Homo sapiens: one gene and its partners. The protein of the gene in region 3 interacts with the protein of the main gene of each other region in a biochemical or structural test. Each region holds a gene or a part of one and is shown on either strand. Other genes may lie near its edges.

Region 1 (7,043 bases), on a different chromosome or scaffold from region 3:
ATAAAAAAGTACTGAGAATCCGTTCTCATTAGATAACTGTGTACTAAAATGAGATACCACTACACACCTATTAGAATGTCCAAAATCCATAAAAAAGCAAAAAAAAAAAAAAAAAGAAAAGAAAACCAAGATCAATTGCCAGGGAAGATGTGGAGCAACAGAAACTCTCATTCATTGCTGGTGGAAATGCAACATGGTACAGCCACTTTGGAAGACAATTTGGCGTTTTCTTAAAAAACTGAACACAGCATAAGATTCAGCAGTCATAATCAATTTACCCAATTGACGTGAAAACTTACGTCTACATAAAAATTTGTATACGATTGTATACAAAAGATTATTTCATAATCACCAAAAATAGAAGCATCCAAAATGTATTTCATTTGGTGGATGGATATATATATACACACGCACTATGGTACAACCAGACAATGATACTACTACTCCTCAATGAAAAGGAATAAGTTCTGAGCCACACAAAGTTATACATGACTCTTCAGTTCATTATGCTAGGTGAAAGAAACCAGTCTAAAAAGGCTACATAGTATGCGAGTCTATTTATATGACATTCAGGAAAAGGCAAAATTATAAAGATGAAACACCTATCAGTGGCAGCCAAGGGGGTTATCTGACAAGCACAGGGGATTTATCAGGGCAGTGAAACTAGTATGGTAATACTGTAATGGTGGATGCATGCTTGCTTTCATCTGAATATTTGTGTTCCCACAAACTTCATCTGCTGAAATACCAAGGTGATGGTATTAGGTAGAAGGTGGGGTATTTGGAGAATGACTAGTTCATGAGAGCAGAGTCCTCATGAATGGGATCAGTGTTTTTATAAAATAGACTCCACAGAGATCCCTTGCCCCTTCTTCCATGTGAGGACATAGGGGAAAGGCAACTGTCTATGAACTAGGGAGCAGGTCTCCATCAGACATGAAATCTGCCAGCACCTTGATCTTGGACTTCCCAACCTCTAGAATGTGAGAAATAAAGTTGTGTTGTTTATAAGCCACCCAGTCTACACTATTTTTGTTATGGAAGCCCAAAGGGACTAAGACAACGGCACGAGGCATTTGTCAAAACCCATAGATCTTTACAGCACAAAGAGTGAAGCTTAATGTATGTAAAGTCTAAAAGTAACTTAAGAAGTTGGAGAATCATGGGACAGAATGTAGAATGTTACACACACACACAAACCTAGCTGTATTATACATGTATGAAACCACTACAGTGAAGCAAGTGGCGGGAAAGTTACCATATTTGGGTACTCCATCAAAGAAATATGTTTTTTATAAAGTATAAGTCGGCCAGATAAGCATGTAAAATAGTTGAATATTTGATAATCATTTATATAATTTTTCAGATATGAAAACTATTGGGATTCTGTTTAATAAAACGTCCTTATCTTTTAAAAATGCATATTGAGTTATTTCGAGATGAAATGGTCTAATGCCTTAGATTCGCTCCACGTTATTCCAGAAGCTGATGTGCAGGTAGGCAAGTGTCTAACTGGAACCAGATTTGCTGTGTATTTAAAGTTGTTCATGCTGGGTATCTAGTATCCTGGGTTCATTACATTAGTTCCTATTATTCTGTATGTGTGAAGGCTTTCCCTAGTAAAACTTTTTTTATAATAAATATGCCATTAAAAGTGAAATCCTAAATGAAACTGACCACTTTGTAGAAATAAAATAAACCAGTAACCAAACTGATCCAAAAAGAAAAAGAAAACTTTAATTAAACTATAAAAACTGAAACTGTACAATGTTCAAAGCTCAAGCCACCTTCAAACATTCCAGGTTAGGCAGTATTGGAGGCCAATTCTACCAAATGATCAGGGAAAACTAACCACCATCTTATCTCATCTCTTCTAGAACATACAAAATATTTACAATTGTTCAATTCATTCTTCCAGACTAGCCCTCCTGGATTCAAAAACCAGATGAGGACCACATCCCACCCTTGATGGGAAAAAAAGCACACATTAAGTAAGCTCCCTTACATAGCAGCAAATATCCTACGTAAATTACTAGCATATTAAATAAACAGGCTCTGCCCAAGGAAATAACATACGGTTTAACATTAGGGGAAAAAAAAAAAACGGTTTCATTGTAATTCCTTACATACAAAATGGAGGAGAAAAAAATTTGATTGTGTCAACGGGTACAGAAAAAGCTTTTTAAAGAAATTTAATATGAGTTCATGGTAAAAAAAAAAAAAGTATTTAACCTATATTCAAAGAGAAATTGCACTTCCTAAAATCAACAGCAAACATACTTAAATGCAAAACGTTCGAATAATTATCATTCACGTCAGGAACGAGAAGTAGATGTAGGCTATTATCTCTACGATTGAAATCAGGATTGAGACACAAAGAGCTATAAGTACCAAAATGAGTAAGTGGTATGAATACTGGAAGAATATGTAATGTTTAGTGATAATACCATTATCGATCTTGAAAATTCAAAGGAAAAGGTATGTGGAATATTCAAGTGCATCGGCCTTCAGAACGAGGAGTGCAACAGATTACTACAGCAAAATCAAAATCTTCACCTCACGAAAGCAATAACTAACTACAACAATTAATAGACAATATGCCATTTGCAATAGCAACAAAATTCATGAATTGCCTGAAAAGAAGTCTAATAAAAATGTATAAGGTCTTTATAGAGACAACTGTCGAAGTATACTGACATATTCAGGTAAAAAAAAGCTTGAAATACATAGAGGAGTATAACATATTCATTCATGGGGAGCACAACACTGTAAAAATGTAAACTCAGCTTAAATTATTTACAATTTAGTGCCTTACCTGTAGCCGCCGCCATTACAACAAATTTGGGCTGCTGTGCTCTGCTTCCCAAATCAAACCTGGAAAATTACAGAATGGAAACAGTAAATAAAAAACCAGTATCAGCAACAAAATCTACGCAACAAAACAGGGAAAGCCCAGGGTGAGACTCAAGGCTGTGTTGAGCTGGTACTTGTGTTTGACACTTGCAGTGTTGGTTGGAGGGGGTTAGCAGCAGGGATGTTGGGGAGGTTTGTAGCCGGCCTACACGGTAGATGACAGAATGGGTAGAATAAAAGTTTGAAATTTTCCACTTCACTTCTTTGCACAATCTGAGGCAGCCTCTGAAAACACGATGCCAAGAGCCCTAGGTAATAGCAGGACACCAGGAAAATTTGGTTGGTTAAGGCAGTATGACTCCAGAGTTCTGCTAATAACAACCTGAAACCACCATAGTGGCAGAGGAATTACATTTTTAAAAAAAAAAAATTCTTTCAACAGAACACAAAGACTGAAATAGGAGGTCACTACAACCGCGGGAGCTGCCGCCCCGCCCTGCAGGGAGCACCTGGCCTGGGACCCGCAGGCATTCTCTACAAGGGGTGCAGCTGTGCAAATGCTCACAGGTGACAGAAACAGAGCATCTCCTGCCCATCACTTCATCCAACAGCCAGAGGTGACGAAGACGACCCTCCTGAGTGAGGACTGAGGGTCCACACCGCCCCCCCACCCCACACACCATAGAGGGACCACAGAATCCAGCTCAGCCCCTCTTGTCAGCCCTGGTAAACGCAGGCAGTGATGTCACCCAGACCACACCCCTTCCCCCAATGCCACTTCAGGGGGACTCAGAGTCAGAGACTTGGTCTGAGGGGAGCAGAAGCAATCTGCAGAGGATGGCGGTCCAGGCTCAGCCAGGCATCAACTTCAGGACCCTGAGGGATGACCGAAGGCCCCGCCCACCCACCCCCAACTCCCCCGACCCCACCAGGATCTACAGCCTCAGGACCCCCGTCCCAATCCTTACCCCTTGCCCCATCACCATCTTCATGCTTACCTCCACCCCCATCCGATCCCCATCCAGGCAGAATCCAGTTCCACCCCTGCCCGGAACCCAGGGTAGTACCGTTGCCAGGATGTGACGCCACTGACTTGCGCATTGGAGGTCAGAAGACCGCGAGATTCTCGCCCTGAGCAACGAGCGACGGCCTGACGTCGGCGGAGGGAAGCCGGCCCAGGCTCGGTGAGGAGGCAAGGTAAGACGCTGAGGGAGGACTGAGGCGGGCCTCACCTCAGACAGAGGGCCTCAAATAATCCAGTGCTGCCTCTGCTGCCGGGCCTGGGCCACCCCGCAGGGGAAGACTTCCAGGCTGGGTCGCCACTACCTCACCCCGCCGACCCCCGCCGCTTTAGCCACGGGGAACTCTGGGGACAGAGCTTAATGTGGCCAGGGCAGGGCTGGTTAGAAGAGGTCAGGGCCCACGCTGTGGCAGGAATCAAGGTCAGGACCCCGAGAGGGAACTGAGGGCAGCCTAACCACCACCCTCACCACCATTCCCGTCCCCCAACACCAACCCCACCCCCATCCCCCATTCCCCATTCCCATCCCCACCCCCACCCCTATCCTGGCAGAATCCGGGCTTTGCCCCTGGTATCAAGTCACGGAAGCTCCGGGAATGGCGGCCAGGCACGTGAGTCCTGAGGTTCACATCTACGGCTAAGGGAGGGAAGGGGTTCGGTATCGCGAGTATGGCCGTTGGGAGGCAGCGAAAGGGCCCAGGCCCTCCTGGAAGACAGTGGAGTCCTGAGGGGACCCAGCATGCCAGGACAGGGGGCCCACTGTACCCCTGTCTCAAACCGAGGCACCTTTTCATTCGGCTACGGGAATCCTAGGGATGCAGACCCACTTCAGCAGGGGGTTGGGGCCCAGCCCTGCGAGGAGTCATGGGGAGGAAGAAGAGGGAGGACTGAGGGGACCTTGGAGTCCAGATCAGTGGCAACCTTGGGCTGGGGGATGCTGGGCACAGTGGCCAAATGTGCTCTGTGCTCATTGCGCCTTCAGGGTGACCAGAGAGTTGAGGGCTGTGGTCTGAAGAGTGGGACTTCAGGTCAGCAGAGGGAGGAATCCCAGGATCTGCAGGGCCCAAGGTGTACCCCCAAGGGGCCCCTATGTGGTGGACAGATGCAGTGGTCCTAGGATCTGCCAAGCATCCAGGTGAAGAGACTGAGGGAGGATTGAGGGTACCCCTGGGACAGAATGCGGACTGGGGGCCCCATAAAAATCTGCCCTGCTCCTGCTGTTACCTCAGAGAGCCTGGGCAGGGCTGTCAGCTGAGGTCCCTCCATTATCCTAGGATCACTGATGTCAGGGAAGGGGAAGCCTTGGTCTGAGGGGGCTGCACTCAGGGCAGTAGAGGGAGGCTCTCAGACCCTACTAGGAGTGGAGGTGAGGACCAAGCAGTCTCCTCACCCAGGGTACATGGACTTCAATAAATTTGGACATCTCTCGTTGTCCTTTCCGGGAGGACCTGGGAATGTATGGCCAGATGTGGGTCCCCTCATGTTTTTCTGTACCATATCAGGTATGTGAGTTCTTGACATGAGAGATTCTCAGGCCAGCAGAAGGGAGGGATTAGGCCCTATAAGGAGAAAGGTGAGGGCCCTGAGTGAGCACAGAGGGGATCCTCCACCCCAGTAGAGTGGGGACCTCACAGAGTCTGGCCAACCCTCCTGACAGTTCTGGGAATCCGTGGCTGCGTTTGCTGTCTGCACATTGGGGGCCCGTGGATTCCTCTCCCAGGAATCAGGAGCTCCAGGAACAAGGCAGTGAGGACTTGGTCTGAGGCAGTGTCCTCAGGTCACAGAGTAGAGGGGGCTCAGATAGTGCCAACGGTGAAGGTTTGCCTTGGATTCAAACCAAGGGCCCCACCTGCCCCAGAACACATGGACTCCAGAGCGCCTGGCCTCACCCTCAATACTTTCAGTCCTGCAGCCTCAGCATGCGCTGGCCGGATGTACCCTGAGGTGCCCTCTCACTTCCTCCTTCAGGTTCTGAGGGGACAGGCTGACCTGGAGGACCAGAGGCCCCCGGAGGAGCACTGAAGGAGAAGATCTGTAAGTAAGCCTTTGTTAGAGCCTCCAAGGTTCCATTCAGTACTCAGCTGAGGTCTCTCACATGCTCCCTCTCTCCCCAGGCCAGTGGGTCTCCATTGCCCAGCTCCTGCCCACACTCCCGCCTGTTGCCCTGACCAGAGTCATCATGCCTCTTGAGCAGAGGAGTCAGCACTGCAAGCCTGAAGAAGGCCTTGAGGCCCGAGGAGAGGCCCTGGGCCTGGTGGGTGCGCAGGCTCCTGCTACTGAGGAGCAGGAGGCTGCCTCCTCCTCTTCTACTCTAGTTGAAGTCACCCTGGGGGAGGTGCCTGCTGCCGAGTCACCAGATCCTCCCCAGAGTCCTCAGGGAGCCTCCAGCCTCCCCACTACCATGAACTACCCTCTCTGGAGCCAATCCTATGAGGACTCCAGCAACCAAGAAGAGGAGGGGCCAAGCACCTTCCCTGACCTGGAGTCCGAGTTCCAAGCAGCACTCAGTAGGAAGGTGGCCGAGTTGGTTCATTTTCTGCTCCTCAAGTATCGAGCCAGGGAGCCGGTCACAAAGGCAGAAATGCTGGGGAGTGTCGTCGGAAATTGGCAGTATTTCTTTCCTGTGATCTTCAGCAAAGCTTCCAGTTCCTTGCAGCTGGTCTTTGGCATCGAGCTGATGGAAGTGGACCCCATCGGCCACTTGTACATCTTTGCCACCTGCCTGGGCCTCTCCTACGATGGCCTGCTGGGTGACAATCAGATCATGCCCAAGGCAGGCCTCCTGATAATCGTCCTGGCCATAATCGCAAGAGAGGGCGACTGTGCCCCTGAGGAGAAAATCTGGGAGGAGCTGAGTGTGTTAGAGGTGTTTGAGGGGAGGGAAGACAGTATCTTGGGGGATCCCAAGAAGCTGCTCACCCAACATTTCGTGCAGGAAAACTACCTGGAGTACCGGCAGGTCCCCGGCAGTGATCCTGCATGTTATGAATTCCTGTGGGGTCCAAGGGCCCTCGTTGAAACCAGCTATGTGAAAGTCCTGCACCATATGGTAAAGATCAGTGGAGGACCTCACATTTCCTACCCACCCCTGCATGAGTGGGTTTTGAGAGAGGGGGAAGAGTGAGTCTGAGCACGAGTTGCAGCCAGGGCCAGTGGGAGGGGGTCTGGG
Region 2 (4,543 bases), about 140 Mb from region 3:
GCTTCCAGACCAACCACCCCAAAACTTTTGACCTGAGGAATAAATTAGTTTTGAATTAAGTTCTTCTGGTGAGAACTGCCTTGCTTAAAGAATTAAAAACCCTTGACTTTCCTCAAAGACCATGTTGACAGAGACTGCTAACATGAAGCTTAAGTTTTCTGAATTATGTTCAAATCTTTAGAGGAATGAGGATTCATCTTCCACTCTTACGTGTCAGGGGTTGGACCTGCGGAGTCTGCTTTTTCTAAAAATTGACTGCAACCACTTTGAAATCAGTTCTTTCCCTCAAGAAGGTTCCCCAGGTTGAAGGTAGGCCCTGATGATCTGCACGTGGTATGTAGGACGCTGATGGGGTTTAAGTTCAGGGAAACTGCTATGTGACTTCTCACAAACATCCCACCTGATGCTACCCCAATCCTGAGAACTTAGACGGACAGCTCCCCTTCAAAGCCTTGTTTACTTAGTCCATACCTTGCATCCAGTTCGCTAGTGCAAACTTAATGTGTAAGCAATGTAGATAGAATGGAGCTTTTTTGCATATAAGAAAAAAAAACCTAAAAGTCAGAAAAGCCAGTTTTTTTTTTATTTGTAAAGCTCTGCCATAAACTTCTAGCGTGTGCCAATGGTCACCTGCCACACTCGCACCAGGTTGTCCGTGTAGCCAGCAAACAGAGTCTGCAGGGAAGAAATGACAGTGACAGGTCAGGCTGGCATAAATTCTGCAGTCTCACTAGATTCAGCCCAAGTGGCTTTTTTTGAGATCCGTCCACCTTGCTCCATTGTCTAGGCTGGAGTGCAGGGGTGCGATCCTGGCTCACTACAGCCTTAAGCCCCTGCAGTTCAAGAGATCCTCCCACCTCAGCCTCCAGTAGGCATGTGCCACAACGCCGGGTAGACTGTAAGAAACCGCTCTCATTTCAACAGCCAGCTTGTAAGTGGTGGTTATGTATTCCTTGAGGAAGAAACAGCTGGTGATAAGGCTCCAGACATTTGAAAACTGGTCAGATTAATTAAGGTATTAATTGAAGGCTGACAGCCACTGCGTTCCACATCAGTCTTCCCTCTGATGCAGAAACACATTCACTGGCATGGCAAACGAGGGCATCCTCATCAACCTGGCTTGTCATTTCACTTTATGCCAAGGACACTGCTCTTGTGTCTGACAGACTAGATATACTAACAGAATGAGAGGGAGAAAATTAACTGGAAGCAGAATCACCTGAGAGGACAGACCCACTTACCTGGCCATCAGCAGACCAGGCCAGGGAGGTGCACTGGGGTGGTTCTGCCTTGCTGCTGGTACTGATAACTTCTTGCTTCAGTTCATCTACAATGATCTTTCCCTCTAAATCCTGGGGAACAGGGCAAAAGCAACCTTAAGACTTACCAATCAAGAGAGTCTCCTCTTAAAAGCCCCTCAAGATTCTCAAGTTAAAAAGGGATGATTTTGCTCCCTGGGGTCCATGTATCAATGCCTACATGCATTTTCAGTTGCCACTAGTGGAAGGATGGTTTGCTACTGACATCTAGTAGAAGCTGGAAATGCTGCTAAACATCCTGGAATGTACAGGACTGCACACCACAACAGAGTTACTCAGACCAAAATGTCATTACGTGGAGGCTGAGAAAGCTTAGCTCCCAGGTGGGAGTCAGATGGCATATATAATAACCAAAACATTGCCAGGGCTCAGAGTGCAGCCAGGTACCCAGTCAATTGTAACCCACACTCACCCAGATCTTGATGCTGGGGCCTGTGGCAGCACACAGCCAGTAGCGGTTAGGGCTGAAGCACAGGGCGTTGATGATGTCCCCACCATCTAGCGTGTAAAGGTGTTTGCCTTCGTTGAGATCCCATAACATGGCCTGGCCATCCTGGACACAGGTAAGGTAAATCAGGACACTGTGACCTCTTCCAGATGTTAATTCTGCCCATCTCAAGATTCTGTCAGAATCAATTCTTACCTTTCCTCCATTACCCCAGGCTTCTTTGAAAGCTAATGACTCAAGTACCAATATTTATCTCTGTATACCTTTCCTTTAACGTAAGACCTTACCAACCCCATCAAAAAACCCCTCCCAACTTACATAAATCACTCCAATCATTTCTGAAAACCAGGATCCCAATCTCATCAACTGCTTCAAGAAACCAACTTTAGGCTGGGTGCGGTGGCTCATGCCTGTAATCCCAGCACTTTGGGAAGCCGAGGTGGGCGGATCACCTGAGGTCAGGAGTTCAAGACCAGCCTGGCCAACATGGTAAAATCCTCTCTACTAACATACAAAAATTACCCAGGAGTGATGGCGGGTGCCTGTAATCCTAGCTACTCGGGAGGCTGAGATGGGAGAATTGCTTGAACCCGGGAGATGGTTGCAGTGAGCCGAGATCGCGCCACTGCACTCCAGCCTTGGCAGCCGAGTGAGACTCCGTCTCAAAAAAAAAACAAAAAACAAACAAACAAAAAAACAACAAAAAAAACCCACAGGCTTATAGAAAATCATCTTTTTCTTCCAGATAGTATGCCTTAACTGTCATTTGCTGAAAGTAATCTTTGGAAACATATTCTCAGATTGCCATTATCTCATTATCCTCCTAAAACCATCTTGGCTAATGTTTGCCATTTTACGTTAGAGACGCTGGCTAAGTGCTCCTTCCATGACGCTGTCTTCCACTGAGTAGGAGACGCCTTGTCCCCAAATACCTTGCCTCCAGAAGCACAGAGGGATCCATCTGGAGAGACAGTCACCGTGTTCAGATAGCCTGTGTGGCCAATGTGGTTGGTCTTCAGCTTGCAGTTAGCCAGGTTCCATACCTGCATAGACGTGCGGTTGACAGGTGAACATCCTAGCTCTTGATGAGCTAGGGTCAGGCCCAACAAAAAAGGGCTTGGCACTTCTGGATACGGTAGCCATTTCTCATTCAGTAACATGTCCTGGCCACTTCACGTTAGATTATAACACATATCCAATGCAGTGTGCTGACTTACAAGGGACATCAGACCATGTGACAAGAGAAAGAGTCAACTGAGGGCATCTGCAAAGCTTTCCACAGGACTTGGAGTGTATGACCACCTGGGAGCACACCCTGACTGGTAAAGCCCCTGCCTTGGCTTGACGCTCACCTTGACCAGCTTGTCCCAGCCACAGGAGACGATGATAGGGTTGCTGCTGTTGGGCGAGAAGCGGACACAAGACACCCACTCTGAGTGGCTCTCATCCTACAGAAGATGGAAAGGAAATTAGGGCAAACAGTCCTATCCCATGAAATGCTAGACCTCCCAGCCCTACCCCTCAGTAGGATGATGGCTGGCAGCACCTTTCAAAAACCAAGAACCCAAACCTTTAAGCTCAATAGAATCCCTTTAGATTCCAGACAAGAAAATTTTTTAAAAATTTAGAGATGGTGGCTGGACGCAGAAGCTCACGCCTCTAATCCCAGGGAGGGCGAGGTAAGTGGATCACCTGAGGTCAGGAGTTTGAGACCAGCCTGGCCAAAATGGTGAAACCCTGTCTCTACCAAAAATACAAAAATTAACCAGGTGTGGCGGCGGGTGCCTGTAATCCCAGCTACTGGGGAGGCTCAGGCAGGAACACTGCTTAAACCCAGGAAGCGAAGGGTGCAATGAGCCAAGATTGTGCCATTGCACTCCAGCCTGGGCAACGAACAAGTGAAACTTCATCTCCAAAAAAAATATAATAATAATAATAGGGCCTGGTGTGGTGGCTCACGCCTGTAATCCCAGCACTTTAGGAAGCCAAGGTGGATGGATCATGAGGTCAGGAGATCAAGACCATCTTGGCTAACATGGTGAAACCCTGTCTCTACTAAAAATACAAAAAATTAGCCAGACCTGATGGCAGGCGCCTGTAGTCCCAGCGACTCGGGAGGCTGAGGCAGGAGAATGGCGTGAACCCGGGAAGCAGAGCTTGCAGTGAGCCGAGATCGCACTACTGCACTCCAGCCTGGGCGACAGAATGAGACTGTCTCAAAACAAAACAAAATAGTAGTGATAAGGCCGGGCACGGTGACTCACGCCTGTTATCACAGCAGTTTGGGAGGCTGAGGCGGGCGGATCACCTGAGGTCAGGAGTTTGAGACCAGCCTGGCCAACATGGTGAAACCCCATCTCTACTAAAAATACAAAAATTAGCTGGGCATGATGGCACACGCCTGTAATCTTCTCAGACACCCAACCATCGGCTTCTGAGCTGCGGCAACTCCCTTTCACCTTTTCACCGCCCCCCACCCATCCCCAAATCCCCGATCCAGCCCCCAATCTGCGATCCCAAATCTGCGATCTAGCCCAGAATCCATCTCAAAAAAGAAAAAAAATAAATAAAATTTTGTTTAAATAGATGGGGTCTCACTATGTTGGCCAGGCTGCTCTCCTGTCCTCAAGCAGTCCTCCCACCTTGGCCTACCAGAGAGCTAGGATTACAGGCGTGAGCCCAGCCCAGACAAGACTTTAAAAAGGCAAAGAAAGCGGGGGACGGTGGCTCACGCTTATAATCCCAGCACTTTGGGAGGCTGAGGCGGGCAGATCAC
Region 3 (7,033 bases):
CACTCTATTTTTTTCACATAAAAACAGGATTACACTGTATATTCTGTTCTGCAACTTTTTTTTTTTCACATAACTTTTATCATGGATACTATCAGATCTGATAACTTCCAAACTGCTTTATTACCTGATATCTTTGATTGTGGCCCTCTTCATGGGATCCACCTGCAGCATATGTTTCAAAAGGCTAATCACAGAAGGATTTAAATATTGAGGGGTATAGAAGATCCCATCACATATCTTCTTAAAAAGAGTTGGCACATGGTCATCATCAAATGGAAGGGTTCCACATAATAAAGCATAGAGAATAACCCCACTGCTCCATATATCTACCTCTGGGCCTGCATACAATCTGTAACAGGAAATAACAATTGGATTAAAGAATCATTTTAACCTAAGATTCAGTTCATCAAAAACTTCAAATATGGATATTTCATAAAGAATTCTTAAGCAGAATATGGTTTTTATAGCCACTACTACATGTTACAACGTTAATTCCATCAGTATTATCTTTGAAAACAAAAGTCAAGAAGTTTGTAAATTACACACCATGGCTAAAATTCTGTTCTACTATTTACTATGGCCCTGATGGGATCTGACAATAGGGCCAAATCTTGAACAAACATATCACTATTCAATTTAAAACCATTGGTTTTTGTTACAGAGGAGAGATTAAGTGATATTTCATCAACTGAGAATGTTCTTTAGTAATGGACTCTGAGCCCACAATCCCAATAACACAAGACCCCTTACACCAAGGTGAAAGGATCCTGAGGCTGTGAAAGAAAGCCAGGCAAATTGGTTCACAGAGTTTTTAAATCCCGTTTGCAGTGCATTGTAGTCAAGTGCCTTAACTAGCTGCAGACTAGTTAGATCACCCATTCAAAGCCTGGATTCAGGAAAAGGATTTCTTTAAATTTATGTACTGCTGAACTGATCGATAAATATTATTTTGAAAGTAAAAGTTCTCATACACCAAGAGCTTGAAGAAAGACTTTATCCAAACTAGAAAAATTAAATTTCAGTAATAGCCCATTGCATATATGCACAGTTATAACATTTCTTTTTATTTATTTAAATAACAACTTTCCACAGTCTCCATGTCCTGAATTGTTTTATTCCTAAAAGAATTAAGATAGACAACACCATTTTTTTAAAAATTTTTTAAATAATTTTTGACATTAAGTTAATATTTAAAAAAAAGATGAAACTTGACAAATCTAAAATTAGGTACTCCTGCCTTACTCACAGCCATATTTTTACACAAATCTCATTTCTTTGAGCAGTCTAGGCCAACAAGCTTATAAAAATAGAAAATACTACAGTATTTCTGCATTGAGTTAATCAAGATGCAAAACATTCACACAAATAAGCATGGTTTGGGTGAAAAGTTATTAAAAGTTCATTATAAATCTAGCAAACTTCAGCTTCTGTTTTCAATTTCAGTAGTATAGTGAAGGACAAAGAGTTATTCTTAAAAATATTAAATTCTCCTGTTTTCCAAACTATTCAAAAAGCGACACTGTACAAATATCTTCATGTTCTCAATGCTGGTAGTTAGTAAATTGAGAGGTTAAAATTCTTATAATATTGCAGTCTCTAAAAGGTTTAAAGAACAAAGATTCAACATAAATGAAGTCTAAAGATTACTTCAGCCCAGTTCCCCAAGACATTTTATCATGAAACATAAAGGTACTACAAAATGCCATCTATGTAAAAAATTAAAGCTACACATTACATGTTTAATTTTTCCTCTAAGTAAATAGTAATCCTTTTCTAACTACTAGATATTTCTGTATTATTCAAGTTTCCAGTGTCTTACCTACTTTTTAAACACCCTAGTTTTAAACTTTCCATTTCTTCCACCTGGGAAAAAAATTAATGTACTCTCTTCTAACAACTTTAATATAATGTTGACTTGTAGTCCTTAACCCTCATTCACATATAAATGTGGTTAAGAATAAGCCTTATCTTTCTTTCCTTTCATTAGAATTAAATATGACACTATAGACTAACAAAATCTAGGAGAAAAAGACAATTTCAAATGTATTGAGGGAGGCAGGGTATCAAATACTACCTTCCTGAAATTACTTCTGGTGCAGCATAGTTGGGTGAGCCACAACTTGTTCTTAAAAATTCACCATCTGACATCATGTTTGAAAGACCTGAAAGTGCACAAAATCAGCTACTCAAAAGATTTCCCAAAGACAAAAATTAAAATCCCATTAAACAATAAAATTGAGTTTGCATTAAAATGATAAATCATCATTTTGTTATTTGCTTCAACAAAATCCTATGGTCTATTGTAGCCAAATATTCTGCCATTATGCCCTAAAATGTGTAATCTATTTCAACATTTAAAGTTAGTGCACTGTTAGAGTTTAATACAAATATATTAAGCTGTTGGTTATTTTGCTTATTAGAAAAAACTTGCCATGTTTAAGTTTTATTAATACAGAAATCACTAGGGAAAATAATCTATAACAGATGAATAGAAGGATTAAAATTCAAAGTTCCTATTAAGCCTGTTCTGATTCTTTAAAAAAAAAAAAAAAAAAAAAAACAGTAATTTTGAATTTCAAAGTTCCCTCACAGTTTTACTCCAAAAAGAAACTGTTGCTCCCTCAAAAATGCACCCTATAAAAATAATCAACTGAGGAATAAGAAATTCAAATAATTTAGCCAATTACTATTTTAAAAAAAAACAAAACACCAAAACAACCAGCTCAGGTTTGGTTGGCATTTTCCAGTTAATCTCTGAACATTTAAATAGATATAGTTATAGATATAGATACATAGATGTAGTCAAAACTGAGGAAAATTTTTATAAGAATGTTCTCTGGGCCAGACATGGTGGCTCACGCCTGTAATCCCAGCACTTTGGGAGGCCAAGACAGGCGGATCACTTCAGCTCAGGAGTTCGAGTCCGGCCTGGCCAACATAGTGATTCCCCATCTCCACCAAAAATTAAAAAAAACATAGCTGCATGTGGTGGCCCACATCTGTGGTCCCAGCTACTTGGGAGGCCAAGGTGGGAGAATTACTTGAGCCTGGAAGGCAGAGGTTGCAGTGAGCCGAGATCGTACCACTCCAGCCTGGGTGACAGAGTGAAACTCTGTCTCAAAACAAAAAACAAACAAAAAAAAGTTATCTGATTTGAACTAAAACCAACCTAAAGAAAAGAAGAGATTCCTTTTTCTCTTAGGTTTAGTAAGGTCAATGGCAATTTATATAGGAAATACAGAAAAAATAAATTCTTTTTTTTTTTTTTTTTTTTTGAGACCGTGTCTCACTCCGTCGCCCAGGCCGGACAGGCGATCTCAACTCACTACAACCTCCACCTCCTGGGTTCCAGCAATTCTCCTGCCTCAGCCTCCAGGGTAGTGGGGACTATAGGCACGCACCACCATGCCCAGCTAATTTTGTATTTTTAGTAGAGATGGGTTTTCACCATGTTGGCCAGGCTGGGCTCGAACTCCTGACCTCAGGTGATCCGCCCGCCTCGGCCTCCCAAAATGCTGGGATTACAGGTATAAGCCACCACGCCCAGCCAAAATAAATTCATTTTTAACAATCAAAATGTTCTTTAAACAAATTATAATTTACTATCATTTAAAACATTTTTAAATTTTTAAATAAATTTTTTTAATTAAAAAATTGTTTTAAATAATTTTAAATAATTAAATTCACATAGTTCACTTCTGGTTTTTAAGGTTTTAAATAATTCCATCCCACTCACTTTCCTTCTTCTCCATACTTGATTCTTTTGAACATACTGGAAATAAAGCTGCTACCTTCTCTTTCACAAATAATACTCTTTTCAAATAGTCTCTCTAATACTACCAACTTAAGTTGTTTAAAATTTAATTTTAAAGATATTTAAAGAGCCAGGTGCAGTGGTGCACACCTGTAATCCCAATACTTTGGGAAGCTGTGGTAGGAAGATCACTTGAGGCCAGGAGTTCAAGAGCAGCCTGGACAACATAGTGAGAACTTGTCTCTACAAAAAGACAAAACAGCCTGGCATGGTAGTGCACGCCTGCAGTCCCAGCTACTCAGGAGGCTGAGGCAGGAGGGTCACCTGGCCCAGTAGTTTGGGGATGCAGTGAGCTATGATCACGTCGCTGCCCTCCAGCCTGGGCGACAAAGCGAAACCCTGCCTCTATAAAATAATAGTAATAAAGACATTTAAAGCTAAGAAAAGATGATTTCTTAGCTTTTCTTCTTTTTGTATCTTCATAGACAAAACAGAATACTTTGATATACTCAGTCTATTACTTTATGTAATCTTTTACAGTTATCTGAAGAATTCTAGGTAGGTTCATTGAAACTATAAGAACATTAGAAATGAACGTTAAGAAACTATAAAATTATCCTTACCAAAATCAGCTATCTTTGCATTCATGTGTGCATCAAGCAGGACATTTTCAGGTTTCAAATCTCTATGGACCACCATATGCCTGTGACAATAATCCACACCAGAAAGGATCTGTTGGAACAGACGCCGACTTTCTTTTTCATCCAGCTAAGAAAAGTTAGAGAGGCTTTTTAAAGGTGTGTCTTTCAAAGTAAATTGTCCTATCTATAATTCTCCAACCTATAAAATTGTCAAAATACATGAAAATCTTCCCAATGAACTTCACTTATGAGATACTTTTGACATGAGGAGGAGATACCTGCAGCACAAAACAGAAATGCTAAGATGGTCTTGGAACCCAAATCAGTAACTCAAGTTTCTAATATTATCATTTGCATATGACTACATTGTAACAGCTTGCCTTCCTCTATATCTCATGAGTTATTTCAAATAATTTCAATATCTACTTGAAATTTGGCATATTTCCTTTTATAAGCGGCAAATGTTTACTCTTTCATTCTTTTAACAAATTACTGAATACCTTCAACGTGCTACACATTGCTTTAGACACTCATTACACAGCAATGAATAAAACAAAGGCTAATCTAGTTGATGAAAATAGACTAATAAATATAGTCAGAAGGAGTGATACTGTTTTGAAGAAAAATAAAGCAAAATATAGGTGCAGTGAGTGATAGTGGGGTGAGGGACACTATTTTAGACCATGAGGAAGTAATATTTAAGCACTATTCATAAACCAGCAAGCAACTATGTTGCTATATGTCCTAAAATAGAAGACATTTTAACAACAAACACCTTAATTCATTTAATAAAATATCATAGCATTTTATCTTTAATATGCTTGCTAAAAAAAAAATCTTACATAGCAACTACCTTTTCATTTTTGTTTTTTGTGTTTTTTTGGGGGGGCGGGGTTTTAAATTTATCTATATTTTGAGATCCAGTCTCGTTCTGTCATCCAGGCTGGAGTGCAGTGATGCCATCACGGCTCACTGCAGCCTCGGCTTCCCTGGGGTCCCGCAATCCTCCCACCCCAGCCTCCTAAGTAGTTGGGACCACAGGCACATGCCACCACGCCCACTAATTTTTGTATTTCTGATAGAGACAGGACTTTGCCATGTTGCCCAGGCTGGTCTCGAACTCCTGAGCTCAGGCAATCTACCGCTTCAGCATCCCAAAGTGCTGAGATTACAGACATGTGCCACTGCATGCAGCCTGAAGTATTTTTTTTAAACTTCTCTATGTATCCATATATTATTACCACTTTTTTCAACATAAGTGACAGCCATTACTTGGACATGCCTGCTCCCAAGAAGTCATATTTAATAAATAAGCTATTAATCCTCTAGGCGAAGGACTCCAATATGCAATTCTCTAACACAGGTCACAAATTAGCATTCTAAAACCAGACTTACACCTTAAAGGGCATGGATAATATGGGAGAAAATACAAATCAGTAATTTATTTTGAAACAAGAAACTATTATAAGATACCATTCCTCTAGAAAAATACTAATCCTTTAGCATTCTAATACTTTTATTTCTAGATTTGTAGGTTCATGGGGAAAAAAAAGAGTATCTGTTCAAATATGAAAAAATAGGAGAAAACTTGATTAAACAAAATATAAAAAGTAAAATAGACAGGCTACAAAAATGAAAATTATACTGTATTAGTAACAAGTACAATTACAAAGGATGGAGAAAGGGATGTCTATAAAGGAAGGTTAGAAAAGTCAAAATACATTTCCAATTAAATGTAACAGATTAAATCTTTTGTCTCCAACTCTTGAAACATCACTAAAATGACATCAGCAATAAAACAGGCATATAAAGACAAAAAGAACAAAAGAGACAGCAGTAATCAAGAGGAGTCACCAAGGATGACAATAGATAAACAGTAATAAAGACTAAGCCTACAAGAGAAAGCTAAAACCTAAGCCTATAGGGGTAGAAACCAGTAAAAAATAAACATCTGCATACAAAGCCTGGGAAGCCTTAGAAATTGGAAACACAGGGAACTGCTCAAGGTAGAAGTGAGAGATGAGCTGAAAACAGGACAAGTGCTTGAAGTAAGAAGCTTTTAAACTCACCCATATTGGGGAATAAGACCTATAATTTACTCTAGTAAGGCTGAACCAGCTCTGCTCTCAAGGACACCAAGGCAGGGATAAGGCATCCTAAGGAAAACATGGGGGCTAAGACAAAGTCAACATACTAACTAGTGAGACTTGCATCTCTTTTCTCCACTCAGCTCCTGGAGCACTGGCAGCTAAGCTAAGGCCTTTAAGGAAATGGGAAGGTTTCTTCTGGAGCAAATATCTGATCCAAGAAAACATATTTGTTATTATTAGCATTTGGTATACAGTAATAAAACAGACAAGTCCCTACCTATTCAAGCTATGAGAAAACCCAGCAATCAGTAAGTCCTACCCACATGAGCCTGGCATTTAATACCCTATTCTTAAATATTTAGTGGACAGCCAAGAATCACCAAATATCTGAAGAAGGGCCATGCATCAAAGACAAAAATGAATAAAATGAATGCAGAGAGCACAGAAGGTACAGAACAAGACGGAACAGAGGAAGACTTTTTTTAAAATGCCATCCTCAGACTAGGTTATTATATCTGTGAGGCAAATAACAGCAGACTAAAAAAATG

Evidence for each region. Proteins that work in one complex are often made in the same cells at the same time.
Region 1: the proteins of PRKAA1 (region 3) and MAGEA3 form a complex in vitro, tested with the Homo sapiens proteins (one study listed by BioGRID).
Region 2: of the proteins of PRKAA1 (region 3) and RACK1, one has a biochemical effect on the other in vitro, tested with the Homo sapiens proteins (2 studies listed by BioGRID).

The regions. Positions count from the first base shown.
Region 1 is NC_000023.11:152,694,780-152,701,822, forward strand, and holds the start of MAGEA3 (melanoma-associated antigen 3), read left to right. Parts: upstream 1-4,014; 5' UTR 4,015-4,050; exon of another isoform or gene 4,051-4,295; intron 4,296-4,426; exon of another isoform or gene 4,427-4,485; intron 4,486-4,526; exon of another isoform or gene 4,527-5,009; intron 5,010-5,778; exon of another isoform or gene 5,779-5,842; 5' UTR 5,843-5,908; intron 5,909-5,988; 5' UTR 5,989-6,053; coding exon 6,054-6,998; 3' UTR 6,999-7,043. UniProt on the Homo sapiens protein: Activator of ubiquitin ligase activity of RING-type zinc finger-containing E3 ubiquitin-protein ligases that acts as a repressor of autophagy. May enhance ubiquitin ligase activity of TRIM28 and stimulate p53/TP53 ubiquitination by TRIM28.
Region 2 is NC_000005.10:181,236,368-181,240,910, forward strand, and holds the end of RACK1 (small ribosomal subunit protein RACK1), read right to left. Parts: intron 3,216-4,543; coding exon 3,120-3,215; intron 2,811-3,119; coding exon 2,700-2,810; intron 1,873-2,699; coding exon 1,732-1,872; intron 1,353-1,731; coding exon 1,242-1,352; intron 676-1,241; coding exon 610-675; 3' UTR 530-609; downstream 1-529. UniProt on the Homo sapiens protein: Scaffolding protein involved in the recruitment, assembly and/or regulation of a variety of signaling molecules. Interacts with a wide variety of proteins and plays a role in many cellular processes.
Region 3 is NC_000005.10:40,767,342-40,774,374, forward strand, and holds part of PRKAA1 (5'-AMP-activated protein kinase catalytic subunit alpha-1), read right to left. Parts: intron 4,523-7,033; coding exon 4,378-4,522; intron 2,163-4,377; coding exon 2,075-2,162; intron 1,597-2,074; coding exon of another isoform or gene 1,542-1,596; exon of another isoform or gene 1,095-1,541; intron 350-1,094; coding exon 125-349; intron 1-124. UniProt on the Homo sapiens protein: Catalytic subunit of AMP-activated protein kinase (AMPK), an energy sensor protein kinase that plays a key role in regulating cellular energy metabolism.